3 separate regions of the Homo sapiens genome follow, and regions 2 and 3 are each linked to region 1. The links come from fine-mapping of genetic effects on gene expression. A gene starts in region 1. Each other region holds a variant in brackets. All regions are shown on one strand. Distances are from middle to middle. Region 1 holds the start of POLR3C (RNA polymerase III subunit C). Region 2 holds the start of NUDT17 (nudix hydrolase 17). Region 3 holds the start of CD160 (CD160 molecule).

Region 1 (10,583 bases):
TGCTTAAAATCCATCAATGGCTCTCCTTTGCCTTCAGGATAAAGCCCAAACCTCTTAGACAAACATGTACACAAATAATAAATAATTCCAGTTATAAATATAAATGCTGTGAAGTATATGAAATGAGAAATGTGGTAGGAACTAGTGTAGGAGTGGGCAATGGTGCTTGAAGTCTATGAAAACAGCATTTAAGATAGAAATGATAAAAACAGAGACCACTACATGAAGATCTGGGGACAAACATTTGAAGCCGGAGCCAAAGTCTAAAGACCAGAAAGAGTTTGACATGTTTAAGAGATAAAGTCAGTAGAGGGAACACAGTGAGTAAGATGGAGACGGGGCAGAGGTGAGGTTGAAGAGCCCTGTCTCCAGCAGATCATACGAAGACCTAGATCACGTAAGGCTTCCTAGCCCGTACCTTGGATTTCTTCTAAAAGTAAAGGAAAGCTATTAAAGGAGTCTAATCAGTGGATGTGTTGTTTTGTTTTGAACAACTTAGAAAGTCATTTTGGCTACTAAGTAGGTAAGAATGCAGCTAGGGAGACCATTAACGAAAGCGTTTGCAAAGAGTTGAGAGATGGCAGTGAAAAGATGAGAAATGGTTGGATTTGAGGTAATTTTGGAAACTGGGCTGATATGTTTTACTGTGAGATTAGAGGGTTCCAAGGATTTTGGCTTAAGCAGAAATGGTGGTGTCCTAGGCGGCTGGCCTACGTGGTAGTGTCTTTTACTAAGATGAGGAAGTTTATGAGGGAGCAAGATATTTGGGAGGAGGAATCAATTATTCTGTTTTGGCCACACTAAATTTGAGATGCTTACTGACATCTTTATAGGTACGCTAAGAAGGCATTTGAATATGAGTTCAGGCCTATGTATAGTTTTTAGACCCATTTTTCATCACTGGCCCCTGTAGGTCTTTAGGTTCTCGCCATATTGAGCAACCTAAACTTTTTCTAGGCCCCTTTTTACATAAGCTGTTACCTCTGTTCAATGAAAGAATTAAGTTAAGGCTCAGAAGGGAGACAGTAATGGTTCATTCTTTGTTAGTCTATTCCTAATATTTAATGAGGTTCATAATCCTACTGCTTCTTAGCTCAGGAAGCTTTAAGCTCTCTTGGGGCTTGTTATCTGAGTGCTCTTTCTGGCCTGCTTCAGGGTGAGGACTTCTAATCAAGAAGCCCCATTACCTCCTTGTTATCTGTAGTATATTTTGGTCTCTTGGCCTTGGGCTCCCCAGCAGCATCTTCATCAGATGATCTCCTCCTTTTACCTTTCCCTGCCAAACAAACAATTAAACACTTAGACTATATCTCATATGATGACAGGAAATGACCAAACATGAGAGCAGGTGTCTTTCATTCCAAAGACATCTGTAGCTGCCTCTAGATCAGAGTTGCTTAGGGGGCTGAAGAGCTATAAGAAACTCAAGTAACTGATGAAATAATCTGAAACTCAACATGTTCAAAAAGAGTCTTATAGTCTTTCTCCTCCAATGCTCTCTTTCATGGCCAGTGATATCATCCTCCCACATGTGCAAGTCAGACACACAGATGTCACTCTTAGTACTTGTTTCCTTCACCCTCTCTCTTTCATTTTCCACCAGTCTGTCAACATTTACCTTTGCCCCATTCTCCCATCCTTTCTGTAGACAAAAAATCTTTTGAAAGTGCAAATTAGATCATGTCATTTCCTTAAAAATCCTTCAGTGGTCTTCCTTTGCTCTTAGCATAAAGAACAGATGCTCTATAAGGTCTTACTTGATTCAGCCCCTGCCTGTCTCCCATCCAAGTACTAAGCAGGTTGATCCTGATTAGCTTCTGAGATCAGACCCCTGCCTAGCTATGTCTCTAACCTTACCTCATGCCTCTCTTGCTTTGCTTACAATGCTTTAGCTATACTGACATTCTTTCATTTCCTCAAATGCTATTTTTTTACTACATACTATTCCCTCTGCCAAAAATGCTTTTCCTGTTACCTCACTGTTAGCTTCTACTTCAAATCTTAGCTCAAATGCCACCTTCTCAAAGAAACATGAGGCCTAAACTCCCAGATGAATCCCGTCTCTCGTTATATATTTTCTTTTCTTTTTTTTTTCCCGAGACAGAGTCTCACTCTGTCACCCAGGCTGGAGTACAGTGGTGCAATCTTGGCTCACTGCAATCGCTGTCTCCTGGGTTCAAGCAATTCTCCTGCCCCAGCCTCCCGAGTAGCTGGGATTACAGGCGTATGCCACCATACCTGGCTATTTTTTTTTTTTTTTTTTTTTGAGACGGAGTCTGGCTCTGTTGCCCAGGCTGGAGTGCAGTGGCACGATCTCGGCTCACTGCAACCTCCGCTTCCCGGGTTCATGCTATTTTCCTGCCTCAGCCTCCCAAGTAGCTGGGACTACAGATGCCCGCCACCACACCCAGCTAATTTTTTGTATTTTTAGTATAGACGGGGTTTCCCGGTATTAGCCAGGATGGTCTCGATCTCCTGACCTCGTGATCCGCCCACCTTGGCCTCCCAAAGTGCTGGGATTACAGGCGTGAACCACCATGCCCGGCTACCTGGCTAATTTTTATAATTTTAGTAGAGATGGGGTTTCAACATGTTGCCCAGGCTGGTCTCGAACTCCTGGCCTCATGCAATTCGCCTGCCTCAGTCTCCCAAAGTCTCCATTATATATTTTCATAACACCTCATACTTTTCCTTCATGGCACTTATTACAGTTTAATTATATACTGATGTGATTTTCTGATTAATGCATGTCTCATAATACTATGACAGTTCCTTCATAGGAATATTTCCTTCATAGTACTTATCACCGTTTAATGATATATCGATGTGATTTTCCGATTAATGTATGTCTCCTATACTAAAGCCCCATGGCAGAGACCATGATTTTTTCATTGTTATACACCACGATGTCTGGCACATAGCAAATACTTGGTAAATACAATCACATTTCATACACTTGACAATCAAGAAGAATCCACAATTAAGGCAAGTCACAGTTCCAGGGGTTAAAATTCCTTACCTATCAAGCTGAGTTTAGGAACCAGGTACATGTCCTTTTCATTAATGACAAGTGTGGGGGCAGGTGGTGGTGGCCCAGGGTCTGAATTCTCAGTGGTAGGTACCGAAGGGCAGCGTTGTACAAAGTGTGTGTCTGCCAGTCGCACAAATGTGTTTGATACTTCAGCATAGTCCATGGTCTTGCCATCTGTATAACAGGAGGAAAAAGGCAGATGAGATGGCCTAAGATAGCTCAGGGTTCACTCCCATAGCCAGCTGATCTATGCTTTTGTTAACAGCTATGGATACCATACTGACCCTCCATGGTCTCTGTGAGCCGGTCTGCCACTTTCTTCACAACAGCTGACATTGTCAGTTTGCCGTTCAACAGAAGCTCCTCAACAATCAGCTCTCCAGTGTCACTGTACAGAGTTTTGGTAGTATAGATGTACCGGGGATATCTAAGCATTCGCAATACCCGGCTGCACTGGGCTTCATACTCCACCACACCACGTTTGTGCACTTGATAACTCACCAGGTTATGTTGGACGAGGACACACAGGGCTTTCTTCACCTAAATGGAACATAAAGAGAAGAAAGAGAGGAAAGACCTGAAGATATAGCTCATTACTGCTGGCAATTTTTTGTCCAACAGCTTAGTAAGCATCAGAAAATGGCTAGATAATTTCTGCACTTATTTCCTCTCTCCACTGGAGGAGCTAATAAGAATCACACATCAATACAATAAATCAGGAAGATTCCTTGCTATATTTCCTCTGATCCTTATCTCTCAAAACACAATTTACTTTCATCATTCTCATTCCTTAAAGGCAGTACTGAGATTAATAGACTTATTGTGAATAAATGAGGTACGGCATGGGAAGAGCAAAGATTTGCCTAAAAGCTGTGATGAACTAGGAACACTTTGAGAAACAAAATGTTGATGTCTAAGTCTCATCCTTTTCTCCCCGAAATAACATTGTTCTGCTCCAAGGGCAGGCTTTCTTCATTTTTCCTTTTCTGGGGTGAGAAGAACAATATTCAAAGGTGGGTGAAATAAATTAGTGAAAGAAATGAGAGAAAATGAATGTCATTTAGACATACCTGATCCAGTGATGTTCCTGTGTCATGGGCAATTACTCTTAGTGGCTGGCTGCCGGTTCTTATCAGATGGACTCCAATTTTTTCTACAATCTCTCCAAAATGCTCTTGCAGCAACAAAGAACAGAGCTTAATTTCTGCTTGAGTCATTGTACTGGGGAGTCTGAGAGCTAGGGAAAAAACACCAAAATGGTACAATAGAAAGTCTTTCACGCTGGAAGCAGAGCTGCTGAGTGTAAATTCATGTATTCTTTCTGGAGGGCAATTTGACAATACATATCAAAAAGCCTTAAAAATCTTGCATATCTTTGAAACAACAATTTCTTTTTGGATATTGTGTCCAAAGAAAGAAAAAGCTAATAATAATGAAGTCATTAGTTCTCTTTATAATACCGACTTAGTGGAAACAATCTAACGTCTAACAATAAATGATGCCATACCCATACAATGGCATACTACACCAACATTTAAAGTTATTTAGTACGATGCGTATTCATGTAGAAAATTATTCATAATAGGCTGGCGCGGTGGCTCAGGCCTGTAATCCTAGCACTTTGGGAGACCGAGGTGGGCGTATCATGAGGTCAGGAGTTTGAGACCAGCCTGGCCAATATAGTGAAACCCCTTCTCTACTAAAAACACACAAAAAAATTAGCTGGGCGTGGTGGCGGGTGCCTGTAATCCCAGCTACTAGGGAGGCTGAGACAGGAGAATCGCTTGAAGCCGGGAGGCAGAGGTTGCAGTGAGCCGAGATCGCGCCACTGCACTCCAACCCGGGCGACAGTGCGAGATTCTGTCTCCAAAACAAAAAAAAACAAAAAAAATTACTCATAATATATTAAGTGACAGAAGCAAGCTGAAAAAATATAAAAATTCAATTATTGTAAAAAAAAAGGAAAAATGTATGCATAGGAAAAGACTATGCATCAAATTTATCTCTATGGGATTATGCGTGATTCTGATTTTCCTTAAAGATTGGGAGATGATTTTGCGGTCTGTCACAGACCTTAGTTTCTACACTTCACTGCTTGGAAGAATTAAGGTCACTGTTCACAGCTCGGTGGGAGTGAACAGGCAGTGTTATTCTCAGTCCATAAAGGAAATGATAATTTCGAAAAAGAAATTTAGGAGGTAAAGGACTGCTTCTCAACAGGGTGTGTCAAACAGGAGATGAGGTTACGTTGTTTGCAGGACAGTATTCAATTCTTAAACTTCTACTCCTTGACAAAGTTGACACAATCAGAAACGGACGTAGTTAATTTTATGATTACTTCCTTATTACAAATTGCTACCAAACATTGTTTACTTATTTCTTCCAATTCCTAAGAAGCCAAGTCTTTGCCTCCCCGTCCCCACCCCGCCTCAGTATCACCAGAGACCTATTTCGTCCATCCACATATCTTTGGAGAAGCATTCCCAGATCCTTTGCCATCCTCGGAAAGGGCTTCCAAGGCGCTTGGCTCCTAGCTCTACACTTCCTTTACACAGGTTCCCGTTTCGGACGTGGTCTCTTGGTCCAGTCAGTGCCGCCACGTTCAGACAGCATTTTCCACTAACCTCAGGGTCAGCGCAATCCGGGGGCTCCAACTCCAATTCGGCTGAGCTTCCCGCGACGGCTTCCTACGGCTCCCGCTGGCCTTCTAGGCCGAGGTGGAGCCCACCGCCCTTTCTAGGACGCGGATCGCCACCGAAGAAGACGCGGAAAAGCAAAAAGCGCGTGCCACTCTACCCCAGAGTTTCGGCGGCTTCCGGGGACGCTCTTTCTTTCTTCTCGCTGGAAGACTGGAGGACCAGCGAGGGGCTGTTTGTGGAGCCGGCGGGCGGGCCGTTTGTCTCTCCTTCCTGCGCCTCTTTGGTGCTGGGAGGCGGGCCGCAGGGTAGCTGTTGGCGCCGCCGCGTTTCTGGGCCTGGCCAACTCACGTGACCGACGCGGGCTCTGAAGCGGTGGGCCGCACCGAGGCGGCGGCGGCGGCGACGACTGCAGCTCGGGAGGTAGCGGCCTGGCGAGGGACGGGCCGGCTGCCCTCTCGGACGGCCGCGGCGGAGGGCAAAAATGGCGGAGGCTTCGGCGGCCGGGGCGGACTCGGGCGCCGCTGTAGCCGCCCACCGGTTTTTCTGCCACTTTTGCAAGGGCGAGGTCAGCCCCAAACTACCGGTAAGAGCGCTGTGTTCTCTATACTTGGGAACCTCATAGATTCCTGGCCCCGATTTCCCGGAACTGGGTCTGGAGCTTTCTGCACATCATTGACTCGCCCGACATCGGTCTGCCGAATACCTGCTGCCCACTTCTAAGCCGCCGGCCCTAAACCCTGGGCATCACGGCCTCGGCCCCGTACCTCCTGCCCACCTCTTAATTCATCCTGGGCTGCTCCACCTGACCTCACCTCTTTACCTCCCGTGTCCTTAATTTTTTTTTTTCTTAGCAAGTTTCCCTCTGATAACTCTCCCCTCAATTTTCTTGCATTCTTTTATACCTGGTCTTTTTCCTACGATGACCTCCCCCCACACTTCTTCCACTGTGTCTTCTCACCTTCCTCTGTGTTCTTTTCCACTTTTCACCCCCCACCGCCCCCGCCACCTCCCTTGTCAGTGAAGCGAAATAGCGGATTGCTGAGGATTGTCACTCTTCGGTTTTTTCTAGGGAAGGAAGCACAGAAAGGGGGTTGGAAGGTATCTGTGGGGCGAAAAGGGGGATTTTGCTCTTCAGTGGTTTCCAGGGTCCTTGTGACAGTGAAGACAGCAGCGTACTAATGACTTGCAGACGGTCTGCACTCCTATCACTGTTGAAGGAAATGGCTTTAGGAAGAAGGCAGGACGTACTGTTTCAACTTCGTTTATTTTGGTTGTCATGCTGCCAGTGTCTTTAATATCATTGTTCCGCCCCCCGCCCTGTCCCTTTCTTCACCTAAGAAAAAGAGCCGGGACAGAATGTTGGGGATGCTTCCTCTGACGTGAAATTGGTTTTCACGAGTTTCTGCCAGAGTGTTAGCCCCTTGAGAGGCAGTGCTGTGGTTGGGAAGAAAACACTTTTGTAGGTCAGGCGCGGTGGCTTAGGTCTGTAATCCCAGTGCTTTGGGAGGACGAGGCAGGAGGATTGCTTGAGGCCAGGAGTTTGAGACCAGCCTGGGCAACAGAGTGAGACCCCTCTCTACAAAAACAAACAACATTTATGCAGCATACTAGCCAGCACCAGCATCACAAACCCAGAAACTGTTTTGGGTTGGGTTGTAGCTACTACGAGGAGCTCCCCCAGAGTGAATGTCAATCCTGTCCTTGGCCAACTGTCTTTATGGTTGTTCCTTTCCTTACAAGTGTCCAGGTTCAGTCTTGTGATAGAGTGGCAACATAATGTATGTTTCTATTTATGGTGTCTCAGATACAGTGTAGGAGAAAACCTTCTGAAGTGAGTCTGTATATCTTATTTCTTAGAAACACAAATGGAGTCCAGTGAATAAGTGCTTAAAGGGTGTTTTATAGTCTTCTCTCACTCAAAAGTTTTGTTTAAGGCATTATGATACATTCTTTCCTCTCTACTTGCCGCACCCCCTACTTCAGAGTCATAGTTTCATCTAAATGCTACTTAGCTGTTTTTCTTTTTTCTTTTTTTTTTTTTGAGACAGCCTCTGTCTATCACCCAGGAGCATGATTTCGGCTGACTGCAACCTCCACCTGCCGGGTTCAAGAGAGTCTCCTGCCTCGGCCTCCGGGTAGCTGGGACTATAGGTGCACGACCACCGCACCCTGGCTAATTTTTGTGTTTTTAGTAGAGATGCAGTTTCACCATGTTGGCCAGGCTGGTCTCGAACTCTTGACCTCAAGTGATCCACCCGACTCGGGCTCCCAGAGTGCTGGGATTACAGGCGTGAGCCACTGCTCCCCGCCTAAATGCTACTTAGCTTTGTTTGCTGATTTTGCTGTGTGTTTATGTTTTTTTTTTTGGCCATATTTCAGTGCTGGGAAGAGCAGGTGTCTAGTTTTTTTCCAGCCAACATCAGAGCCTGCAGAACTCTTCTACCATAGAGAGGGAGTCTGGAATTCAGCCAGTATGTGTGTGACCAGTGGTGTGTTGTTGAATGTGATGCCTTGTTGAATATTCCATCCTTAGCTTTTTTGATCTTTAAGTTGCTGTTCACTATTTTGCCTTTAAGAGTGAGAAGTTGGCCAGGCGTGGTGGCTCAGGCCTGTAATCCCAATACTTTGGGAGTCCAAGGCAGGCAGATCGCTTGAGCTCAGGAGTTCGAGACTAGCCTGGGCAACATGGAGAAACCCCGTCTCTACCAAAAAATAAAAAAATTTGCCGTGTGTGTGGTGGCATGCACCTGTAGTCCCAGCTATTCAGGAGGCTGAGGTAGGAGGATTGCCTGACCCCAGGAAGCAGAGGTTGCAGTGAGCTGAGATCGCACCATTGCACTCCAGCCTGGGCAATAGAGCCAGACCCTGTCTCAAAAAAAAAAAAAAAAAAAAAAAAAGAGTGAGAAGACAGTCTAAACTTCCCCAATTGATTATATCTTTTCTTCTCACCTTTAAGTCCTTACTTCAAAGGGATAATTTGAAAAGCTGAATAGGTGTTTTTCTAAGCCTTAGTTAATGCCTGGAGAAGTTTCTTGATCTTTTTGGTGTGATATATTATTTGTCATATCTGATTTGTAAATTGAGGCCTAACACAATTGAGTATAACCGGATTCTTCCTAAATATATCCAAGGTTCTCTGCTGAGTGTCCTGGAGGTGATAGGGAGTGATATGTGGCTCCTGCCCTTAAGGATCTTACAGCTTTTGGGGAAAGACAAGGCAAACATAGAAAAAGTAACAGCATAAAGGGAATGAGGATATGTGCTTTAGGATTCAGAGAGGGGAATTTCATAGCATTGGTGTGGCCAGTGGGATTTAAATTGAGTTTTGAGGGATGGGTACATTTCAGATTGAGAATTCCAAAGACTGTGAGGTAGCAAAAGGAAGAGGGAGTTGATGAAGAAGGGAGAAATATTTAATAAATCATGTTTTTTTCACAACTAAAAGTTGTATACTATATTTTTTATAGTGTTCAGCATGATTTGATATATGTATACACTGAATGGTTAAATCAAGCTATTTAACATGCATTACCTCACATACTTATTTTTGCGTGGTGAGAACACTTAAAATCTGTCTTAGCAATTTTCAAATATACAGTATATTCCCTTTTTCTTTTTTTGAGACTGAGTCTCGCTCTGTCACCAGGCTGGAGTGCAGTGGTGCGATCTCGGTTCACTACAACCTCCACCTCCTGGGTTCAAGCAGTTCTCCTGCCTCGGCCTCCCAAGTAGTGGGGACTACAGGCACGTGCCACCATGCCCAGCTAATTTTTGTATTTTTAGTAGAGACGGGGTTTCACCATGTTGGCCAGGATGGTCTCCATCTCGACCTTGTGATATGCCCACCTTGGCCTCCCAAAGTGGTGGGATTACAGGTGTGAGCCACTGCACCCGGCCTCTTTTTTTCTTTTTAAATAGAGACAGAATTTATTCTGTCTTGTTGCCCAGGCTGTTCTTGAATTTGTGGGCTCAATGTGTCCTCCCACTATATCCTCCTGAGTAGTAGTAGATAGGTGTGTTCCACCATGCCTGGCTAATTTTTTTTTCTTTTTTGTAGAGATGGGATTTTGCCATGTTGCCCCGGCTGGTCTCAAATTTCTGGGCTTAAGCAATCTGCCTGCCTCAGCCTCCCAAAGTGCTGGGGTTACAGGCATGAGCTATTGCGGCTGGCCTGATATGTGGTATTTGTTTTTAATTCTGTTTATGTGATGAATCACATTTATTGATTTGCCTATGTTGAACTAACCTTGCATCCCAGGAGTAAAGACTACTTGATTGTGGTAGATTAGCTTTTAATTTTTATTTATTTATTTTTTTGAGATGGAGTCTTGCTCTTTAGCCCAGGCTGGAGTGCAGTGGAACGAGCTCAGCTCACTGCAACCTCTGCCTCCTGGGTTCAAGCGATTCTCGTGCCTCAGCCTCCCAGATACCTGGGATTACAGGTTTGCACCACTAGACCTGGCTAATTTTTGTATTTTTGGTAGAGATGGGGTTTCCCCGTGTTGGCCGGGTTGGCTTTGAAATCCTGACCTCAAGTGATCTGCCTGCCTTGGCCCCCCAAAGTGCTGAGATTACAGGTGTGAGCCACCACACTGGCCTGCATTAGCTTTTTAATGTGCTGCTGGTTCAGTTTGTTAGTATTTTATTTAGAATTTTTGTGTCTGTGTTCATTAGGGATATTGGCCCGGAGTTTTCTTTTTTCATTGTGTCTTTGCCAGGTTTTGGTATCAGAATGCTGCTGGCCTCATGGAATGGGTTAGGGAAGAGTCCCTCCTCGATTTTTTGGAATAATTTCAGTAGGATTGGTACAAGCTCTTCTTCGTGTCTGGTGGGGTTTGGCTGTGAGTCCGTCTGGTCCAGGGCCTTTTCTGATTGGTAAGTTTTTTATTTTTCATTATTTTTTGAGACAGGGT
Region 2 (10,583 bases), 24 kb before region 1:
CTTCATAATTAAACCCATACCTCTTTTTTGACAACTTACTCCCCTTCTCACATGAACCCCAACCCTCCCCCTCTACCCCTGACCAGTCTTCCAGTCTTTATAGTTGAAGTTGGACCACTCCCAGGCACCCTTGAATTTCCAATCATGTATCTGCTTTGCACCTCACAGTCCCTAACTCCAGCCCTGCTAGAATATGGGCTCTCCGGACTGGAAAGAATCTTAGGGGTCCTCTAATCTAACCCTCACATGATGCTTCAACTCCTCCAGATCATCTCTAACATAGCCAGAGTGTCACGCTATGTTTAAGCATCTTCAGGGATGGGAAAATCCCCCACACCCAGCCTTCATCATCCATATCCCAGACCACTTCCATGTGACGTCCCACTGGCCCCCAAAGACGCTCCACCCAGCAGCCTCTCAGCCAGAGCCATCTGTTCCTGGCCTTACCAACTCCTGGGCTTCCTCCAGCCTTGCTGACCCCATGGCTCTGGCCTCACTTTTGTTTCAGTCAAGGAGAAATTGACTGCTGACCCTGACAGTGAGGTGGCCACTACAAGTCTCCGGGTGTCACTCATGTGCCCGGTGGGTAAAAGGGGAGAAGGGAACAGGGTGGGAAGGGAGTTGGGTTTAGCCTGTGGACTTTGATGAGGGTTCCTAGGGATACTGGCGTGAAGTTTTCTGGGATGAAATCAGAGTAGGGCCTCTGACAAGAGAACTTGCTTCTCCTCAGCTAGGGAAGATGCGCCTGACTGTCCCTTGTCGTGCCCTCACCTGCGCCCACCTGCAGAGCTTCGATGCTGCCCTTTATCTACAGATGAATGAGAAGAAGCCTACATGGACATGTCCTGTGTGTGACAAGAAGGCTCCCTATGAATCTCTTATCATTGATGGGTAGGGCCATTTTGCTTCCTCTTACCTAGGACATCCACTAGAACCTCTTTTCTTGGTTATTTCTTTTTCTTTTTCTTTTCTTTTTTTTTTTTTTGAGATGGAATCTTACTCTGTTCCCCAGGCTGGAGTGCAGTGGCACAATCTTGGCTCACTGCAACCTCCACCTCCCGGGTTCAGGCGATACTCCTGCCTCAGCCTCCTGAGTAGCTGGGATTACAGGCACCCACCACCATGCCTGGCTAATTTTTGTATTTTTAGTAAAGACTGGGTTTCACCATGTTGGCCAGGCTGGTCTTGAACTCCTGACCTCAGGTGATCTGCCCACTTCAGCCTCCTAAAGTGCTGGGATTACAGGCATGAGACAACATGCCCAGCCTATAATATTTCTTTTTTCTTTTAGCCACCACCTCCTTCAGGGTTTTTAATTCATATGGCTTACTTCCCCTCACATGAACTGCAATTCTCACCTTATCTATCCCTTTTACCAGTCTGTGTGTGTGTGTGTGTATGTGCATGTGTGTGGAGGGGGAGGGCAACATTAAGGACTTAGTATATACAAGGCATCTTGCTGAGCACTTTGCATGAGTTATCTCATTGAATCCTCACAATAACCCTATGGACTCGGCTCCTACCTGTAATTCCAACACTGGAAGGCTGAGATGGGAAGATCATTTGAGGCTAGGAGTTTGAGACCAGCCTGGGCAACATAGTAGACCCTCTCTCTATAAAAAATTAAAAAAATTAGCCAGGCATGTTATAATAGCTCATGACTGTAGTCTTAGCTGCTCAGGAGGCTGAGGCAGGAGGATGGCTTGAACCCAGGAGTTTGAGGCTGCAGTGAGCTATGATTGCATTACTGCACCCCAGCCTGGGCAACAGATTGAGACCCTGTCTCAAAAAAAGAAATAATCCTATGATTGGCTAGTGACACTCACCCAGAAAAAAAAAAAGAAAAAAAAAAACCCTATGAGATAGGTAGTATCATTACACATGAGGAAACTGAGGCCGAGAGAGATTGAGCCTTGCTCAAGGTTATATTGTTAAGTGGCAGAGCCAGTGTACTGAACTGTCATAATATATCACCTATAACAACTACCTGACTTCCCACTGAGCATTGCAATAAGGTTCTTTTCAGGGCCTGGATGTTCTAATCTTTTGATCTTGCTAGTCTTAACCTCTTTTTGGAATCTACATTATGGTTCCTGTTCCCAGTGCTCCCCCACTTTTTGTTTGTTTGTTTGTTTTTGAGACAGGGTCTCGTTCTGTTGCCCAGACTGGAGTATAGTAGCACAATCATAGCTCACTGCAGCCTCGACCTCCTGGCCTCAAGTGATCCTCCCACCTTGGCCTCCCAAAGTGCTAGGATTGCAGGCATGAGCTACCATGCCTGGCCCCTAGTGCCTTTATTTATTTATTTTTACACAAGTGTTTAGAAAGCCAAAGACCCAGTGCCTTTTGGAGATGGTTTATGGACTTCTGTGTCTCTGCTCCTTTTGTTCCTTATACTACACGTAAGTGCTCAGATTTTTTTTTTTTTTTTTTTTGAGACGGTGTTTCACTCTGTCACCCAGGCTGGAGTGGTATGGCACAGTCTCGTGATCTCAGCTCATGCAACCTCTGCCTCCTGGGTTCAAGCAATTCTCCTGCCTCAGCCTCCTGAGTAGCTGGGATTACAGGCATGTGCCGCCACATCCGGCTAATTTTGTATTTTTGGTAGAGATGGGGTTTCACCATGTTGGCCAGGCTGGTCTCGAACTCCTGACCTCAGGTGATCCACCCACCTCAGTCTCTGAAAGTGTGATTATAGGCGTGAGCCACCACGCCGGCTTTTTTTTTTTTTTTTTTTTTGAGGCAGAGCCTTGCTCTGTTTCCCAGGGTGGAGAACAGTGGTGTGGTCTAGGCTCACTGCAACCTCTGCCTCCTGGGTTCAAGCGATTCTCGTGCCTCAGCCTCCTAAGTAGCTGGGATTATAGGCATGTGCCACCACACCTGGCTAATTTTTGTATTTTTAGTAGAGATGAGGTTTCACCATGTTGGCCAGGCTGGTCTTGAACTCCCAGCCTCAAGTGATTCACCTGCCTGTACCTCCCAAAGTGCTGGGATTAAAGGCGTGAGCCACTGCACCCAGCCTCAGATTGTATTTATTTTAAAACCTATTACTTACTTTGCAAAGCTCTTTTACATACCTTGTGTTATTTGATTCCAACAACTCAGAGCGGTCCAGTAGGATGGATAATGTTCTTATTTTACAGATGAGGAAACTGAGATACAGGAAGGTGAGTTACAGAACTCTGGCTACTGTTCTGCTCATCTCCCAGCCCCGTGAATTTTCATCTCTCTCTTCCCCCAGTTTATTTATGGAGATTCTTAGTTCCTGTTCAGATTGTGATGAGATCCAATTCATGGAAGATGGATCCTGGTGCCCAATGAAACCCAAGAAGGAGGCATCTGAGGTTTGCCCCCCGCCAGGGTATGGGCTGGATGGTGAGTGACCCCCTGTTCCCCAGCTAAGCTAAATCTTGGATGGCCTCTTCTCTGAGACGTAGTCTTCTTAATACCCACAGGCCTCCAGTACAGCCCAGTCCAGGGGGGAGATCCATCAGAGAATAAGAAGAAGGTCGAAGTTATTGACTTGACAATAGAAAGCTCATCAGATGAGGAGGATCTGCCCCCTACCAAGAAGCACTGTTCTGTCACCTCAGCTGCCATCCCGGCCCTACCTGGAAGCAAAGGGTATGAGAAAATAGGCTGAGTCTACAGCAAAACGGACAGGGGAAGAAGTCAGGATTGCTTTCTGATCATTGGACAAAGCCTGGGGCAAGAGAAATGTGGAGGGGACAGAGAGGGAACCTGGGGACCTGAGCTGGGTGAGGGCATCTGTGGTTTGCTGGCTGCCTCAGCTCCTCTCTACCCACAGAGTCCTGACATCTGGCCACCAGCCATCCTCGGTGCTAAGGAGCCCTGCTATGGGCACGTTGGGTGGGGATTTCCTGTCCAGTCTCCCACTACATGAGTACCCACCTGCCTTCCCACTGGGAGCCGACATCCAAGGTATGACATGGGTCATAAGATGGACCCTGCACTGCCACACCCTCCCCAGAGCTACATCAGAACCCCTGTTCCTTCTCAAAGCCTCCTGCTTCTCCTGCAAGGGGCCACAGTCCACAGTGCTTTGTCTTTTGGTGGTAAAGGGGTCAGATAGGAGGTTAATTTTGATTTTTCTTTTCCTGCCAGGTTTAGATTTATTTTCATTTCTTCAGACAGAGAGTCAGGTAAGTGGTTCTTTCTTCAGAAGGTCTCAGATCTCTGAAGCTTCCTTTCTAGACACTGATGGGGCCCCTCCCTCTCTTATGATCTCTGGGGATGTAAATCTGCTTTCCCGTGAGGGCAGTGGGGTGTAGGTATCTTATTATCTCCTCAGCCCCACTGGTAGTTCCTGAGATTCCTACTTAGGCCTCCTTCCTAGATCCCCTGTTACTTTTCTGCCCTGGCCTACTCACCCCTACCCCCGTGTGCACTTAGAGCACCATGCCTGCTCTAACCGGACATTCCACACATTTCAGACGCCCACAAAGCCAAGAACCTAACAAGTTGGAGGAGCTCTCTCAAGGCAGGGAAAGGGGAAGGGTGTAGGGAAGTAGGGGAAAGAGGGAGAGGCTCTCCTGCTTCTCAAGAGAATACCTTCGGATCCACAGGGGTTGATTGCTCTCATACGGCATTTCTGAGATGAGTGACTGGGAGGTGGGGAAGTCGGGATTGAGATCTTAAACTATGCCCTTGATTCTTCCTAGCACTATGGCCCCTCTGTCATCACCTCACTAGATGAACAGGATGCCCTTGGCCACTTCTTCCAGTACCGAGGGACCCCTTCTCACTTTCTGGGCCCACTGGCCCCCACGCTGGGGAGCTCCCACTGCAGCGCCACTCCGGCGCCCCCTCCTGGCCGTGTCAGCAGCATTGTGGCCCCTGGGGGGGCCTTGAGGGAGGGGCATGGAGGACCCCTGCCCTCAGGTCCCTCTTTGACTGGCTGTCGGTCAGACATCATTTCCCTGGACTGAGTTCCCTGGATTATGGAAACTTCGCTGTCCCCCAACACTGAGCAAGTATGCTGTGGAGTCCCAACCCCAGCTACTCTGATCCCTCTGGGGGCTCTGGCCAAGGGCCAGACAGACCTTCACAGATGCCTACTTTTGGCCTCATCTCTGCCTGACAAGGCCAGCACCCAAAGGGTTAATATTTAACCTCTTTTTAAGGACACTGGGGTCTGT[T/G]TCTGGAAATGTTCTTTAGATGGTGGCACATTCCTTTGGGTATGTTAACCTAGGCAGTGGGAGGCAAATGGGATGGTATGTGAGCTAGGAGAAGGGCTGAACCCTCAGCCTTGACTATGTCTAGAGCCTCTTGGGGAAGGGGCACCTCTCTTGAACCCCAAATGCTCTCTCTTCTTATTACCCAAACCCATGGCTCTATTTCTTCTTCACATCCATTGTCTCTTCATGTCTATTCCATTCCCTTCGGCCAAACAGACAGGTGGAAAAACTGAGACAGGCAGTTTCAGAGATGGACAGAGAACTTTATTTTGGATTGTGGATGTGGACTTTTTTGTACATAAATAAGAAAAACCAAAATACTCCAAAGATGACTTCCCCTGCCTCCTACTCCAGTATGACAGAGGAGGATGTAAGGCCTTAGCCATGATCTGCAGGGGTCTGGGAGTCAGGCCCGGCCTATTGCTTGGGTCTCTCTCTATTTATATATCTAAGTTCACAGTGTTTCTTATTCCCCCCTAAGCTTCTAGAGGCTCATGGCCCTGTAGTTAGGCCTGGCTCATTCTGCACCTTTCCAGGGAGGTGGAAGGACCCTGTGCCCTCCTTCCCAATCTTCTTTTTCAGGCTCGCCAAGGCCTAGGACCTATGTTGTAATTTTACTTTTTATTTCTAAAGTTGTAGTGAAGCTCTCACCCATAATAAAGGTTGTGAATGTTCTGTGAGTGTCATGGAGATGGGCTAGGGAGGGGATTTTACACTTCACTTTCCAGACCCCTGGTTTGGGGGAAGAGGGTCCATGTTCCATTCTTCCTTTGCTGGCCCTGGGTCCAGGTAAGCTGCACTTTTACACGGTGGGGGTGTTCTGTGGAGGAATTCCAAGAGAGGTTGTCCTTTCCTGCTTTCCCCCGTGCCTGTAAAAACTAGACCATTCCAGCCCAGTACTGTGGAGCTCTCCAGTCCTTTTTCACTTTTACCTGCCCAGATGTTGCAGCCAGAGCTTGAGGGCAAACTTGGTTCCAGTGCTGACTCTCTCTTTGTCCTCTGCCATGGTTGGGATCATCCGCAGGAGGGTGGACATGTGCAGGACCAGAGGTCGGGCTCTTCCATCCTCCTCTAGTTCCACTGCACTGCATGGTGACAACTCCTGTTGGGGCTGTGCCTTGTAGCTTACAAAGAACTTACATATATGTTAGGTCCCCGAATCCTCCCAACTACCACAGGAGGTGGGTGGGTGTTGACCTCATTTGCAGAAAGGAAACAGGTTCAAGGAGGGTTAAATGACTTGCCCCTGTGTTAGAACTGACACTTAGACCTTCAATGCTAGCCAGTTAGAGCAAGAATCTTTGGGGTTTGATGGTCAGTGTCTTAGATTTCATGTACCTTCTTAATTATCAGCTGACCCACTCTCCTTAAATCTCCCCCACAACACAAAATTCCATCCTGAGGACAGGATAGACGCTGAACTTCTCAACATGAATATGTTGGTGTATTAGAGGCTGAGGGAGAAGCTCTTACTTACAGGACAGAGGGTGGTAGGTCCTGGGGGAGAAGTCCGGGTGTCTCTGTCCCATCCTCTGCGGCAGCCACTGCAGCAGCTACATCTGGTGTCAGCCACATAAGGGCGCTCACCTCATTTGGGTTTGGTTGGATCCGGGCCTGGGGTCAGACATGGTGACCCCTCAGTCATTGCCTCTCCCTGGGCTGCCTGTTCGTGATCAAAACCTACCCGCAGGTTTCATGGAGAAAGGCAGGAGCAAGGGGAAAGGGCATTGCATATTCTTCGTTATCTCTGACTACCCCCGCCACCCCCGCCCAGCTCCTAATCACAGTCAGAACCAGGTTGCTTGGGCTCCCCTGAGCCCTGTTTCCTTCCCTCACTGCCAGCCCTACCTGCAACTGCTGCTGTGATTCCTGGGAGATCACGAGTAGATACAGAACAATGTGATGGTATTTGGGTAAACCCCAGCTCAGCCTAGGAGGGTAGGCAGACTAGGAAAAGAAAACAGCAAAAGTGAGAACTTTCCGTCACTTTTTTTTTTTTTTTAAGATGGAGTTTCGCTCTTGTCGCCCAGGCTGGCATGCAATGGCGTGATCTTGGCTCACTGCAACCTCTGCCTCCTGGGTTCAAGCAATTCTCCAGCCTCAGCCTCCAGAGTAGCTGGGATTACAGGCGCCTGCCGCCACGCCCAGCTAAAATTTTTGTATTTTTAGTAGAGACGGGGTTTCGCCATGTTGTCCAGGCTGGTCTCAAACTTCTGACCTCAGGTGATCCGCCCACCTCAGCCTCCCAAAGTGTTGGGATTACAGGCGTGAGCCACCGCACCCGGCCCTTTGTGTCACTTTTTGAGACTTTGTTAATACAGCTTTAGGGTGAAACAAAATGGTGGCCAAAAGCTGAGGGCGTGGATGGTACAGATGACACAGCAGGGACATGGGTGAGGGTTATGGATTTGGGGATTCCAGCCCACTTATGTGCTATTGTTTCCCTTGTAGCCAAGGCAGGTAGGGGCTGATCTATGGAGGAGCTTCTCCCAGCTACTTGTCTCACCTCCCATAAACCCAGAGGGACCCAAGAGAACTGGCCCTGGGGCAGGTGTAGTCCACTCTCCTCCCAAAGTTCTCGAAGCCCTCCGTCCAGCAGCTGGGAGTCAGAGAAGACACATCAGAGGGGCCAGTGCCTGACTCTTCCAAGTCCTTTTGCTTGCCTCTCCCTCAGCCCACACCCAAGATGGTCCCAGGCATGGGTCTCTTGGCTCAGGTTGGATCAGCTGACTGGTTACCTCCTCCTCAAGTTCCACGTGCCCACCTGCAACAACAGTGGGGCCAGTAGGTGAATGGTGGTGGTCTTGGCCAGGGAGCCCCCACTCACTGTTGACACTCCTCTCCCCTCCAGTGGACACAGAGGGAGTTGCAGTCCCTTGTGACTATGAACATGCCACATTTTGGGGCCCACTTTATCCTTCTGAGACTGGGAAAAACATTGTTGCGGGGAAAGGGCAAATTTCTTCTCTGTACTTGGGGCCTTGTCCCCAGAATACTCACCCGGGGGTACCCAGAGGTTGGGGGAAACGCTCAGGGTGCGTGCCCTTCGGGTTAGCAAGACAGTCTTGTCGCTGGACTGCAGAATGACGGCCACACCCAGGTCCACACCTCGATCTGTGGGCAGCTCAGCCCCAGGGACCCTGGGCCGCTCCTCCAGGGCCGCAAAAGGGCAGAAAGGGGGTCGCTGGCAGAAGGAAGCCAGCTGGGTTAAGGCTTCAGAAGGGCGGCACTGGGTGGGCGTGACTTCCAAAAATGGGGCTACACCGCGCGTTGGGGGCGGGGTCCTCGCCGCCAGTTCCCACCCGATTTCAGTCCCCATCTTTGGCCCTTCACTGCCCCCGCTCTGGGGCCCCCTTCTGCCGACCTGGAGCGGAAGCCTAGCGGAGGCGCCTGGGAAGGGCCTGCTCGAGAGGACAAGCCGTCCTCGCTTCAAGCTGCAGTGAATGGGCCACGTCCCGAGCCCTGGTCCGGCTCCCAGGAGGCCACACACACTCCGTGCGAAGCTCACCGACTCCGGACGCCGGGACAGGAGCAGCTGCACCCGCACCTCGGCCATAACGCGACTCTGGAGTCGCTGCGGCCCGCCTGGCGCCCTCTGGTGGCCTAGAGAAGCTTCCCCTCGGAACGTTCCGCGGGGTCGTAGCGGGGTTTCCGAAAGTCCCCGGGGAAATAAGGGCACATCTTTTGAGGATGACCCATGGGTATAATATTAAACCACAAAGAAGAATACCTCTAAATGCTCAGCTCCTATTCCTTCCTATCTTCTCTGTTTAGGACAATGACCCCCAGACCGAATGACTTCAGGACCCACATGTTACTTCCAACCAGCCCTAAGCTGAACTGTAAGCATCCTCTACAGCACTATGCACACCTGTTACAGCAGGCATCACTTCGAATTAATTATCTCCAAGCGAAACACACCAAATAACATTTTCGATACCACTTCTCCTTTCACTTCACTCAAATGGCAACCAAGTATGCAGATGCTATCTCCTTAAACTTCCTCAAACCCATGTTCTCTCCAGCCTTCATTCATTGCCCTAGTTTAAGCCTTCCTCGTATTTTGCCTGAAATATTATTGCAAGTCTCCAAATAGTCTTGCCCCTACCAGTTCATTCTCTACAGTGCTGCCAGAGTGATGTTTTGTTTTGAGAGTCTCACTCTACAGCCCAGACAGGAGTGCACTGGTGTGATCCCAGCTCACTGCAACCTCCATCTCCCAGGTTGAAGCGATTCTCGTGCTTTAGCTTCCGAAGTAGTAGCTGGGATTACAGGGCGCCCACCACCACGCGCGGCCTTTTTTTTTTTTTGAGACGGAGTCTCGCTCTGTCACCCAGGCTGGAGTGCAGTGGCGCCATCTCAGCTCACTGCAACCTCCACCTCCCTGGTTCAAGCGCTTCTCCCGTCTCAGCCTCCTGAGTAGCTGTGATTACAGATGTGCACTACCCACACCTGGCTAATTTTTAAATTTTTTTGTAACGATGAAATCTCACTGTTGCCCAGGCTGTTCTTGAACTCCTGGCTTCAACTGATCCTCCCAGTGTGTTGGGATTACAGGATTTAGGCACCATCAAAATTATCTTCTAGCTGTTTTGAAATGTACAGTAAATTAATAACTATGCCACCCTGATCTATCCAACACCAGTCTTACTTCTTCAAACTGTATTATCTGTGCCCACTAATCAACCTCTCTTCATCCTCCCCATCCTTCCTAGCCTCTGGTAACTACCAATCTATTCTTTATTTTCTTGAGATCCACTTTTTTAGCTCCTATGTGAGACAGAACATGCAATATTTGTTTCTGTGCTTGGTTTATTTTACTTAACATAATGACCTCCAATTCCATCCATGTTGCTGCCAATGACAGGATTTCATTCATTCTTATGGCTGAATAATACATTTTCTTTAGCCTTTCATCTATTGATGGGCACTTAGGTTGATTCCATGTTTTGGCTATCGTGAATACTGCTGCAATAAACATGGGAGTGCAGGTATCTTTTTGATACATTGATTTCTTTCCTTTTGGAGATATATATATACCCAGTAGTGGAACTGCTGGAGCATAGTTCTGTTTTTAGTTTTTTGAGGAACCTCTGTAGTCTTCCACAGTGGCTGTACCAATTTACATTCCCAACAGTGTACCAGGCAGGGCTCTCCTTTTTCCACATCCTCACTAGCATTCATTCTTTCTTCTTGATAAAAGTAATGAATTGGGGTGAGATGTTATCTCATTGATTTTGATTTCCATTTCTCTGATTAGTGATGTTGAACATTTTTTGATGTATCTGTCGGCCATTTGTGTATCTTCTTTCGAAAACTACCTATTAAGATCTTTTGGCCATTTTTAAGTTGGATTGTTCTTTTTGCTATTGTTTGAGCTCCTTA
Region 3 (10,583 bases), 100 kb after region 1:
GGTCAAATGGTATTTCTAGTTCTAGATCCTTGAGGAATCCCCACACTGTCTTCCACAGTGGTTGAACTAATTTACACTCCCATCAACAGTGTAAAAGCATTCCTATTTCTCCACATCTTCTCCAGCATCTGTTGTTTCCACTCGTTGTATCTTTTAACTTATTTTTTCAGTCTCTTTATATCATTCATTATATCTTTTAATTTTTCATTATTGTTCATATATGAAAGGCTATTTGTTTTACTAGATATTAATTTCATACCCAGCTCCCCTCCCTTAATTCTATCATTTTTCAGTTGATTCTCTTGGATTTTCCAGTTATGCAATCATATTATGTGTACATAATGATAATTACTTCCTTTTCTATTTTATATCTCTGATTTCTTTCTTCTAATTGTGTTGGTTAATATCTCCAGAAAAATATTAAATAATAATGGTAATAATGAATCTCTGTCTTTTTTCTAAGTTTAATGGGGGATGCTTAAATGTTTCCTTATTAAGTATTATAGTAGCTTTGAGAATGAGATGTATTTTATTATGTTAAGGAATATACATTTATTTCTATTTTATTAAGAGTTTTAAAATGTCAAGGATGGATGTGAATGTTTTATTAATTGCCTTTAAATATCAACTAAAATGATATTATTTTTCTTTAAGATATATTAAGATGGCGATCTACATTAATAGATTTCCTAAAATTGATACATCTTTGCAGTCCCAGACAAACAAACAAAAACTGAAGCCATTTGGTCATAGTATGTTGTTATTTTCTTTTGAGACAGAGTCTCACTCTGTCGCCCAGGCTGGAGTGCAGTGGCACGATCTTGGCTTACTGCAACTTCCACCTCCTGGGTTCAAGCGATTCTCCTGCCTCAGCCTGCCGAGTATCTGGGATTACAGGCGCCTGCCGAGTATCTGGGATTACAGGCGCCTGCCACTGCGCTCGGCTAATTTTTGTATTTTTAGTAGAGACGGGGTTTCACCATCTTGGCCAGGGTGATCTTGAACTCCTAACCTTGTGATCCACCCACCTTGGCCTCCCAAAGTGCTGGGATTACAGGCGTGAACCACCACGCCCGGCCTAGTATGTTATTCTTTTCATGTGCTGCTGTATTCTGTTTTATAATATTATATTTAAATTTTTAAAAATTGAAAGGCCCAGTTGCGGTGGCTCACGCCTGTAATCCCAAGCCTTTGGGAGGCCGAGGTGGGAGGATCACTTGAGCCCAGGAGTTTGAGACCAGCCTGGGCAGCAAAGTGAGACCATGTCTTTACAAAAAATACAAAAATTAGCCACGTGTGGTGGTGCGTACCTGAAGTCCCAGCTACTCAAGAGACTTAGGTGGGAGGAGCCCGGGAGTTCACGGATGTAGTGAGGTATGATCTTCACTGCACTCTGGCCTGGTTGACAGTGAGACCCTGTCTCAAGAAAACCAAAATCAAAAATTACACACACACACAAATTAACCAATCATACAAGATATTAAAAATATAATACACCATGACAAATGGAATAAGGTTTCATTTTTAGAAATTCTTGGATGATTTAATATTAGGAAATCTATTAATTAACATACTACTGGATAAAAAAGAAAGTCAATATTACCTTCTGATAACATCTTACATTAATTCCCACTAAAATCCTAAGTAAAATGGTAATGGATGAATACTATTCAATATAATGGAGAAATGTATATCTCAGATAAAATTGCAGCATCATATTTAATGGTAAAATATGGGATAATTTCTATTAATATTAGGAGCAAGGCAGAGATGCTTCCTATTATTTCTGTTATTTCACATTGTTCTGAAAGTGTTTGCCATTATATTTAGACAAGAAAATAAAGCAAAGGGTATAAATATTGGAAATCTTAAGGCAAATTTATTACTATTTATATGTGATATAACTTACATCTAGAAAACCCAAGAAACTTAATTGAGAATTATTAGAAACAATAAAAGAGTATCTGAATAGGCAGTTCACAAAAGACGAAATGCAATAAAAAGTTTTTCAGTTTTACAAGTATTCAGGGAAGTACAAATTAAAAATTCAGAGTTCAGAATTTCAGAATTACCACCTGTTAAGTGAACAAAAATTTAAAAGATAAATCAAATTTTGGTAAGGGTAAGAAGAAATATGTGCAATCATTCACTCTAGGTAGAACTATACATTGTTACGGAGCTTTGGGGGAATACTCATTATATATTAACATTTCAAATGCACATACCCTGTCCCTTTGGCTATAGCTTACAGAAATAAAAGCATGAGTGTGCTAGTATAGATGTACAAGGATATTCACTGCAGCATTTTTTATAATACCAAAAAAATAGAAACAGGTGAAGGCCAGGTGTGGTGGCTCACACCTGTAATCCCAGCACTTTGGGAGGCGTGCGGATCACCTGAGGTCAGGAGTTCGAGACCAGCCTGGCCCACATGGTGAAACCCTGGCTCTACTAAAAATGCAAAAATTAGCTGGGTGTTGTAGCAGGTGCCTGTGATCCCACCTACTCAGGAGGCTGAGGCAGGATAATTGCTTGAACCTGGGAGGCAGAGATTGCAGTGAGCCAAGATCACGCCACTGCACTCCAGCCTGGGCAACAGAGCAAAACTTTGTCGCCTTCCTGCCCCCATAAAAAAAGGAAACAGGTGAAGACCCACTGGTGAGAATGGTTGAATAAATTATTGCAGATCCACAGAATAGAATGTTATGTAATTATAGTTTGTATAAAACAATAAACTAAATTAGTGTATATACATACAATTTAATAAGGTACTTATTAATACATAAGATTAAAAATTTTCCTGGATATAATTATTAGTCAGAAAATATGGTAGAAGGAAAAGTTCCATTCATTATAGCAACCAAAAAACCCATCAAATGTCCAGAAAAATGTAACAACATTCCGAATAGGACCTATAGGATACAAACTATACAGTACTATTAAGGAACATAAAAGAAAATCTAAGTAGAGACGATTGTTAAATTCTTCTGTACTTATCTATACATTTGTCACAATCCTAATAAAACATCCCAGCAGCAGCTCATGGTATGGCCCCAATGTCCTTTCCTAGCCTTGACCTCTCCTTGTTCCTTCTCCTGTGTTATCATACCTTCATGCTACACCAGAATGTCCTGGTGACTCTTGAAACATGGAATATTAAGTGACAAAGAGGATAAATGAATAAAATGACAAATCATTTTATTCAAAGAGGAAGACAAAGAAGGATTGCAATTATTCATTCAGCCCAGAATTATGGTTAAAAAGCGTAGACTCTAGAGCCAGAGTGTTTGTGTTCAAATCCTGGTCCTAAAACTTAATAGTGGCGCCGGGCGCGGTGTCTCACGCCTGTAATCCCAGCACTTTGGGAGGCCGAGGTGGGCAGATCACGAGGTCAGGAGATCGAGACCATCCTGGCTAACACGGTGAAACCCCATCTCTACTAAAAAAAATACAAAAAATTAGCCGGGCGTGGTGGCGGGCGCCTGTAGTCCCAGCTACTCGGGAGGCTGAGGCAGGAGAATGGCGTGAGCCCGAGAGGCGGAGCTTGCAGTGAGCTGAGATCGCGCTACTGCACTCCAGCCTGGGCGACAGAGCAAGATTCTGTCTCGAAAAAACAAAAATAAAAACAAAAAAAACTTAATAGTTGCATGACTCGGTCAAGTTTCTTAGGCTCCTGGGCCAGGCGCTATGCTCAGCCTTTAATAAATAGACATATTTCAGAAACACGGAGCATCTATAATGTGTCAGACACCATGGGGCACAGAGAGATCACTAACACAGCAGAGGC[G/A]GACGTTTTAGTGGTTAAATGGTCTCTAGAGTCAGACCAGGATGTTTCAGATCTGGCTTTGAAACTTAACTATCTGTGTAATATTGGGCAAGTTTCTTAATCTCTTAATGACCTATAAAATGGTGACAAAATATTCTCTTCCTTGGGTTGTGAGGGTCAAATGAGGTCACCTATGTAAATTACTTAGCACAGTGCCTGGCAGAGAGTAAGGGCTCAATAAATGATAGCTATGATTAGTTTTATGCTTTCTTATATTGGAATCAATGGACAGTGTTCCAGGCACATCTACCTGCAAGACTGTGTTTAGTCCTTATAAAACACTAAGCCATTATTATTTTCTAAAATTTATTATTTGTACGAAGCATATAGAGGCTTGGAGGGGACTTGTGACTTGCTTAAAATCACAGCTCCTAAGTTGGGGAGCAGGACTCTAACCCAAGTTATGAGAGTCTTTCTCTTGGAGTCCCCTTTGTCCCTCTCCTCACAGCCGCTCATCCATTCACGAACAGCTGTTAACACAAGAACGACTGTACTAAGTAATAAGGTCATAAAGTGTCAAGGGGCAGCACAGGAGAAATTCTGGATGAGGGATGTGGAAAGGCTGCAAGATGGCAATGAAGTTAGGCCTTCATAGTTGTTTGTGGGCTCTCGGGAGCTGGTGACTAAAGAATACGGTGGGTGAATTAAGGTGGGGAATGGGCTGAGGAGATCTGGCTTCCAGTCCTGGCTCCGCACTAGGTAGCTGTGGAATGTTGACAAGGTCGTGTCCCTTCTCTAGGCGTGTTTCCTAAGGGACTGGTGCAGCGGGATGGGAGGGGCGCAGGGTAGGGACCGCTTCCAAGGAGAGAGAGGACAGGCGGGAGGGGCTGATGCAGCTGGTCACTCCGCTGGAGTGGCCAGACTTCGCGGTGCCTAGGGCCGAGTTGAAGAAGAGCATGTAAGTCTGTTGTGGGCCCCTCACCAGCGCTGGGGGGCAGCGAGGTCACTGGGCAAGGATGCTCTGGGAAGTGACCTTGGTGCCCGGGAGGGGAGCACCCTGTTGTGATGCAGGCGGGGCAGCGCGGAGCCGGCGGCGCTGATTTCGCACTCTGGCCGCTAGAGGGCGCTGCCTTTCAGCCAAAGCCGAGTGACCCCCTACCTGCCCCGCGTTGGCCCGCGTCACTCCAGCCATGGGCCATCCAGCGAGCATGGGGGCTAGCCAGGGAAAGTCTAAACTAGGAGGGGAGATGAGGGGGTGCAAAGTTGGGCCTGGTGGGTCCTGGGGACGCAGCATGTACTAGAGCGGCACCTGGCCCTCAACAGAGGGGAGAGCGGGTGGTCGTGAGAAGTCTGGGAATTTTCCGGGCCCACTACACGCCAGGGGCGGGTCTCCCCTCTTAAAACGTTGTGAGCCCCAGCGCGGGCAGGGGGGAGGGTGCCCGTGGAGTTGGCATCCTCATCTTTGATGGTCCCCGGGGCTCCTGAGCTGCGCTGGTGGCCCCAGGGCTCGGTGCCTCTCTCAGGCGACAGCTCACAGACGGCGGGAAACTCTTCCCTCCCGCACCTTCGGAGGCGGTCCTGGAGTCTTGTGGACTCCTGGGTTCAAATCCAAGCTTTGTGTGACCAGCACATTGCTGGACCTCACTCAGCCTCACATTCCTCTTGTGTTTAAAACTACCTCATAGGAATGTGGTGACGGTTAGATGACACATAAAGCTTTGCCAGAGGTTTTCTGGGGAGGGTGGGGACAAGAGGGCAAGGAAGAGTCTCCATTTCCTCTGCCACCGGAGCCCGGATCTAACCTCTCAGAGGAGCTGGAAGGTCAGCTCTGAGCTCCACAAATACCTCTGTATACAGATCTCCCACGACACTGAAAAAGATGCCCAGAAAGATCTCATTTGCAGCTGTGAAGGGGCTTCTTTTTCAATCTCCACAACCCCAACTGCCTTAAAGTAGAACCAGACTTGTTAGTAGACAGAGGTTTGGGCTGGGGGGCCCTTGAAGCTCTTGTCTGAGATCTCAGGCTTCCTGCTCAACACACCAAAGCAGGTGCCTGACATAAAGGCGCCATGGACCTCTTTGGTGGTCTGGGAAGGCATATGGAGTCCCTTCTCAGAACAACATTTAAAAATTAATAAGATACATGGGATAATAAAGGGAACAAATTATGACAAGACAGTTGTCAAAACATTAGAAGAATGTGTGGTAGAGCAGTACACATGCTTCTTTAGATTTGACATCAGCCTAATAACTGTTGTAATTCTGTAGTAGTGCTGAGCGTTAAGGACATTTGGAGAAATCTATAAAAACTGTAATGAGATTTGAAAATATTTGTGTTTTCTATTGATGGCAAATTCTATTGTGGTTCATTGTCTACATTCATAACTGAAGCAAGTGCTGACTTTCAATTAAAGATTAGTGAAAATAAAGATGTATTTTTCCCCCCAATTCACAAATCCCATGAATAAATCTATTCACGGACCTCCAAGAGGTCCATGACGTGAACCACCTAGGACATGAACTTCCCCCGGAGGTGCCTCACAGGGCCAGCTCCAAGCCCCGTGGCACCTCCCGGCTTGTCTCAGGCCAATCCTTGAAGAGCTCCAGCAGATCTAAACTTTGGTAACTTTCCTCTGGTAATTTGAGGAATTCCTCCATTTGAGGAATGTCAGAATGGGGCCAGGATTCCTGAATGCCCATGGAAGAAAAGCGAGCATGCTGGTCTGGCGGGCAGAAATAACCTTCTCCCCAGGCTCCAGAGGGCAGAGGACATTTCCCTCCAAAAGGCAAGTTTCTCAGGGACCTCATGAGAAGCCTGTCCTCACCTGAGCAGTTCTGTCAACCATCCCATCCCTTCACCTGGACCCCAGGTCCCCAGCAGGCCTTTTTACCTCGAGACAGAAGTTCTTCTTTCTTGTTCTCAGACTGGGGGCTCACGTTGAAATGGCTCTCAGTCCTCAGATTGTCCTTGCATCTTGTTAAAACCCTATCTCTCCAGTTTCGTCATTGCTCACACTTTCATAGCTGTTATTATATTCGCTCTTTGAAAACCACAGAATGGGTTGTTAGAAGTCATAGATCTTCCGCCACCCCCACTGTGGATTTTTTTCTCCTTTCTCTCCTGCAACTGGTCCTCCATCTCCTTCTCCTTTCCTCTCCCTTGTTTTGTCTTTTTGGTGTTAGAAATAGACTAGGGTGCTGAGGGGGCTAAGAAAAACCACTTCTTAAAATTCTTTTCTTTACCCTGGGGAACAAAGATTTTGTATTTGCTAATTCATAATAAGGAAAGGACTGATGATAGAATAACTAGAAGATAAAAGGACAGAATGTCCTCTCAAGTATAAAGAAAGGTACCAAGTCTTCTCCTGAGAGTAGGTTTTGGTTAGAAGTAGGACAGAGAACACAGCTGCTCCAGGCTGAAAGGGAAGAAGGTCAGGGAGCTGTCAAGAAGGCTTGGGTGAGGGTGGTGGTGAGCAGGGGAGGCAACGAGTGGGGGCACCAAAATGGTCCTGATGTGGTGGGGGGAGGATGAATGACTGACCTTATCTTCCCACCCACCCATTTTTTTTCTTTTTCTTTTTTCTTTCTTTCCTTTTTTTTTTTTTTTTTTTGAGACAGGGTCTTGCTCTGTCACCAAGGCTGGAGTGCAGTGGGGCAATCATGGCTCACTGCAACCTTGACCTCCTGGGGTCGAGTGATCTTCCCACCTCAGCCCCTCAAGCAGCTAGGACCACAGGTGTACGCCACCACACCTGGATAACTTTTTATTTATTTATTATTTATTTATTTATTTATTTATTTATTTATTTATTTATTTAGAGATGGAGTTTCGCTGTGTCACACAGGCTGGAGTACAGTGGCGTGATCTCAGCTCACTGTAACCTCTGCCTCCTGGGCTCAAGTGATGCTCCTGCCTCAACCTTCTGAGTAGCTGGGATTACGAGAGCCTGCCACCATGCTGGACTAATTCTTGTATTTTTAGTAGAGACAGTTTCATCATGTTGGCCAGGCTGGTCTCAAACTCCTGACCTCAAGTGATCTGCCTGCCTTGGCCTCCCAAAGTGCTGGGATTACAGGCGTGAGCCACCACGCTCGGTTGATAATTTTAAAAATGATTTGTATGGATGAGGTCTCCCTATGCTGCCCCGCCTGCTCTTGAACTCCTGGGCTCAAACAATCCTCTGGCCTTGGCCTCCCAAAGTGCTGGGATTACAGGCCTGAACCACCACTCCCAGCTTCCCATCCATTTCTATTCTGTTCTGTTCTTCCTTGGTCAGTGATGGCTTGGGAGATTACAATTGTTCCTAAATTCTAGGGTTGTGCCCTTAGATGGCAGGAACATTAGTCTGAGAATTAGAAGCATTGGGCTCTAAGTCCTGCAAGGCTGGGCCAGGCCCTGTGCCAAAGGGCACAGCACACCAGGAAGCCCCACGGTTCTGGAGGAACACCTGTCATGATTGCCACCCAGTGCCAGGCTACCCAGGAATTCAAGGGTGGAGGGAGGGTGGGGGAAAATTTTTCATAACTAGTCTAGAGACTCTCTTTTCCTTCTTATTCCTGTTATTGTAGTACTCTGTGGTCCTAAAAACAGTAGGGTGCTCTGGGGTTTGAGAACTCCCAGATGGCTCCACTGAAGCCATCGTCAAATGAGACAGATATTAGAAATATTTCTTCACTCCAAGCCAGGCGCAGTGGCTCACACCTGTAATCCCAGCACTTTGGGAGGCCGAGGCAGGTGGATCACGAGGTCAGGAGATTGAGACCATCCTGGCTAACACAGTGAAACCTGTCTCTACTAAAAATACAAAAATTAGTTGGGCCTGGTGGTGGGTGCCTGTAGTCCCAGCTACTGGGGAGGCTGAGGCAGGAGAATGGTGTGACCCCCCGGGAGGCGGAGCTTGCAGTGAACCGTGATTGCGCCACTGCACTCCAGCCTGGATGCCAGAGTGAGACTGTGTCTCTAAAAAAAAAAAAAAAAGAAAAAAGAAAAGAAATACTTCTTCACTCCATCAAAGTGTTAGCTTTCACTGCAGAATGAGTCCATTCTGGGAGCCTGGGGGTTGGGAACCCATGTTGGGAAGAGGAGTGTCTCACCATCATCCTGGTCACAGGACCAGTCCACCACAGCCCACAGGATACTGGGTCCCACTGGCATAAACTGCTAAACTGGGCCTGGTCTCTGCTCTCCCAGTATCCTTATTTGCTGTCTCTATGATAGTGTTCAAACAGATGACCTCTCTGCTCTCTAAAATGGAGACTTCTCCCTCCTTGGGTCTATGAGAACCTTTCAAAGGTTGGCTCTGAGAGCACTCAGCATTCCTTATCATCCAGGAGCTGTAAAACAGTGATTATTAGCAACATGAAGAGAAGTTAAAGGCAACCAGAGTTGTGGGTGAGTGAGGTTGGGGCCACTTAAGTACTAGCTGACACACATGTATTCATACTGGTTATTGCAAAAAACCTCAAAGTTCTGCAAAGACCTCAGGGCTCAAAAGTGAATCGCAGCGCGCTTCCTTTTCACCAGCCATGTAGTGTCTGTCCATCCTGCAAACGGTTGCATGCACAGTTTTCTGCAAATGTTGCTTTTGGTCGCTTCTCACAAGGTTATTGTGTGCCAGGCCCTGCGGGGTTGACGATGACTGAATGGGGCCTGCTGTCAAGGCGAGCACACTGCTGAGAGAGGCCTGCATTCCCGTGAGATGAAGCAGAAGCAGAATGCACCAAGAGCTCTAAGTACCCCAGAAGTGAGAGAGAACCCAGGAAGCAGGGGAGGTTGGGAGGAAGAAAAGGAGACTGCCCTGTGGGCGCAGACAGTGTTAGGCACTCTGTGTGGACAATGTGACATTTAAATTGAGCTTTGAAAGAAGGCAGGATTTCAAAAGGCAGGGGTAGAGGAACAGTATGAACCAGCAAGGAGCAGGGACATATGGGGCTGGTTTGGAAGTCAGTGAAGCAATGAGGTGGCTGAAATATAGGCTGCCTCCTGGTCATCCACAGCCTCCCAAATATGTATCCTGTGGGCCTTTCAATGTCTAAGGTGTATGAGTCCAGTTACACAATTTAGCAACTGATAGATTGTTTTCAAGATACTAATAGTAAGTGCTCGACATTAAGACAAAGAAAAACTGAGTGGACATTGAATTGTATTTCCATCTTACTTCTGTAGAATTATGGGGTTTTGGAAGCAGAAGAGACTGCAGCAGTCTTCCAGTCCCTGGAAGTGTGCAGACACTTGCATGCCAGTGTTTCCCAAACTTGAGCGTGTATTAACATCACCAGCAGGGCATCTTTGAACAATTCGGATGGCTGGGCCCAGCTGCAGAGTTTCTAATTCAGGGACTCAGGGCAGGGGTGGGGGTGGTCCAAGAAGTTGTATTCCTAACAAGTTCCCTGGTGCTATTGTTGCTGTAATGCTCCTTGCGAACTGTTCAGGGTAATACCTCTTGCATCCTCTGCTTGAATCTGTCTACTGTTCTGCAGCTCACTACCACCCAAAGTATCCACACAATATCCCTTGTGGAATACTTCCAGTAAAATTCTTCCTTGTGCTGCTGTCAGTCCTGCCTGCCTTTAACTTTCAATGAAGTCTGCTGAGGGCCCCACATGGGAAATGTCTATGGATGGCAGGCAAGTCTCAGGCACATGAGGCAGACTGCCTGGATTTACGTCCTGACTCCACTTACTACGTGACCTTGGATAAGTCATTCAACCTTTCTGTGTTTTCCTCAACTGTGGAATGGGGATAATAATTGCAGTTATATCACAGAACTGCTGTTTAGAGTAAATGAGAAAGTGTGTAAAACAATTGGCATGGTGC

Evidence for each region. PIP is the estimated chance that this variant, and not a neighbour inherited with it, causes the effect.
Region 2: its variant is fine-mapped to the expression of POLR3C in whole blood (TOPMed, PIP above 0.99).
Region 3: its variant is fine-mapped to the expression of POLR3C in whole blood (TOPMed, PIP 0.97).

The regions. Positions count from the first base shown.
Region 1 is chr1:145,819,442-145,830,024 of GRCh38, reverse strand. It overlaps POLR3C (RNA polymerase III subunit C), which reads right to left and starts at 5,825. Exons shown (of 15, transcript NM_006468.8): 1 at 5,656-5,825; 2 at 4,102-4,268; 3 at 3,316-3,571; 4 at 3,020-3,205; 5 at 1,188-1,276. The coding sequence starts at 4,248. It overlaps RNF115 (ring finger protein 115), which reads left to right and starts at 5,930. Exons shown (of 9, transcript NM_014455.4): 1 at 5,930-6,253. The coding sequence starts at 6,152. RefSeq lists enhancers at 1,366-1,425, 5,565-5,964.
Region 2 is chr1:145,843,812-145,854,394 of GRCh38, reverse strand. It overlaps NUDT17 (nudix hydrolase 17), which reads right to left and starts at 8,765. Exons shown (of 8, transcript NM_001012758.3): 1 at 8,563-8,765; 2 at 8,199-8,382; 3 at 7,937-7,962; 4 at 7,705-7,797; 5 at 7,047-7,145; 6 at 6,676-6,812; 7 at 6,131-6,283; 8 at 5,441-6,018. The coding sequence starts at 8,754. The coding sequence ends at 5,916. It overlaps PIAS3 (protein inhibitor of activated STAT 3), which reads left to right. Exons shown (of 14, transcript NM_006099.3): 8 at 509-582; 9 at 731-891; 10 at 3,242-3,375; 11 at 3,456-3,624; 12 at 3,809-3,942; 13 at 4,126-4,163; 14 at 4,683-5,873. The coding sequence ends at 4,949. It overlaps MIR6736 (microRNA 6736), which reads left to right and starts at 3,750; the gene lies at 3,750-3,808. It overlaps POLR3C (RNA polymerase III subunit C), which reads right to left. Exons shown (of 15, transcript NM_006468.8): 15 at 9,993-10,583. RefSeq lists enhancers at 3,515-4,714, 8,102-8,361, 8,412-8,781, 9,562-9,691. The variant T/G (reference allele first, on the strand shown) is at 5,160.
Region 3 is chr1:145,715,634-145,726,216 of GRCh38, reverse strand. CD160 (CD160 molecule) reads right to left here and starts at 6,718. Exons shown (of 6, transcript NM_007053.4): 1 at 6,658-6,718; 2 at 1,311-1,416. The variant G/A (reference allele first, on the strand shown) is at 3,788.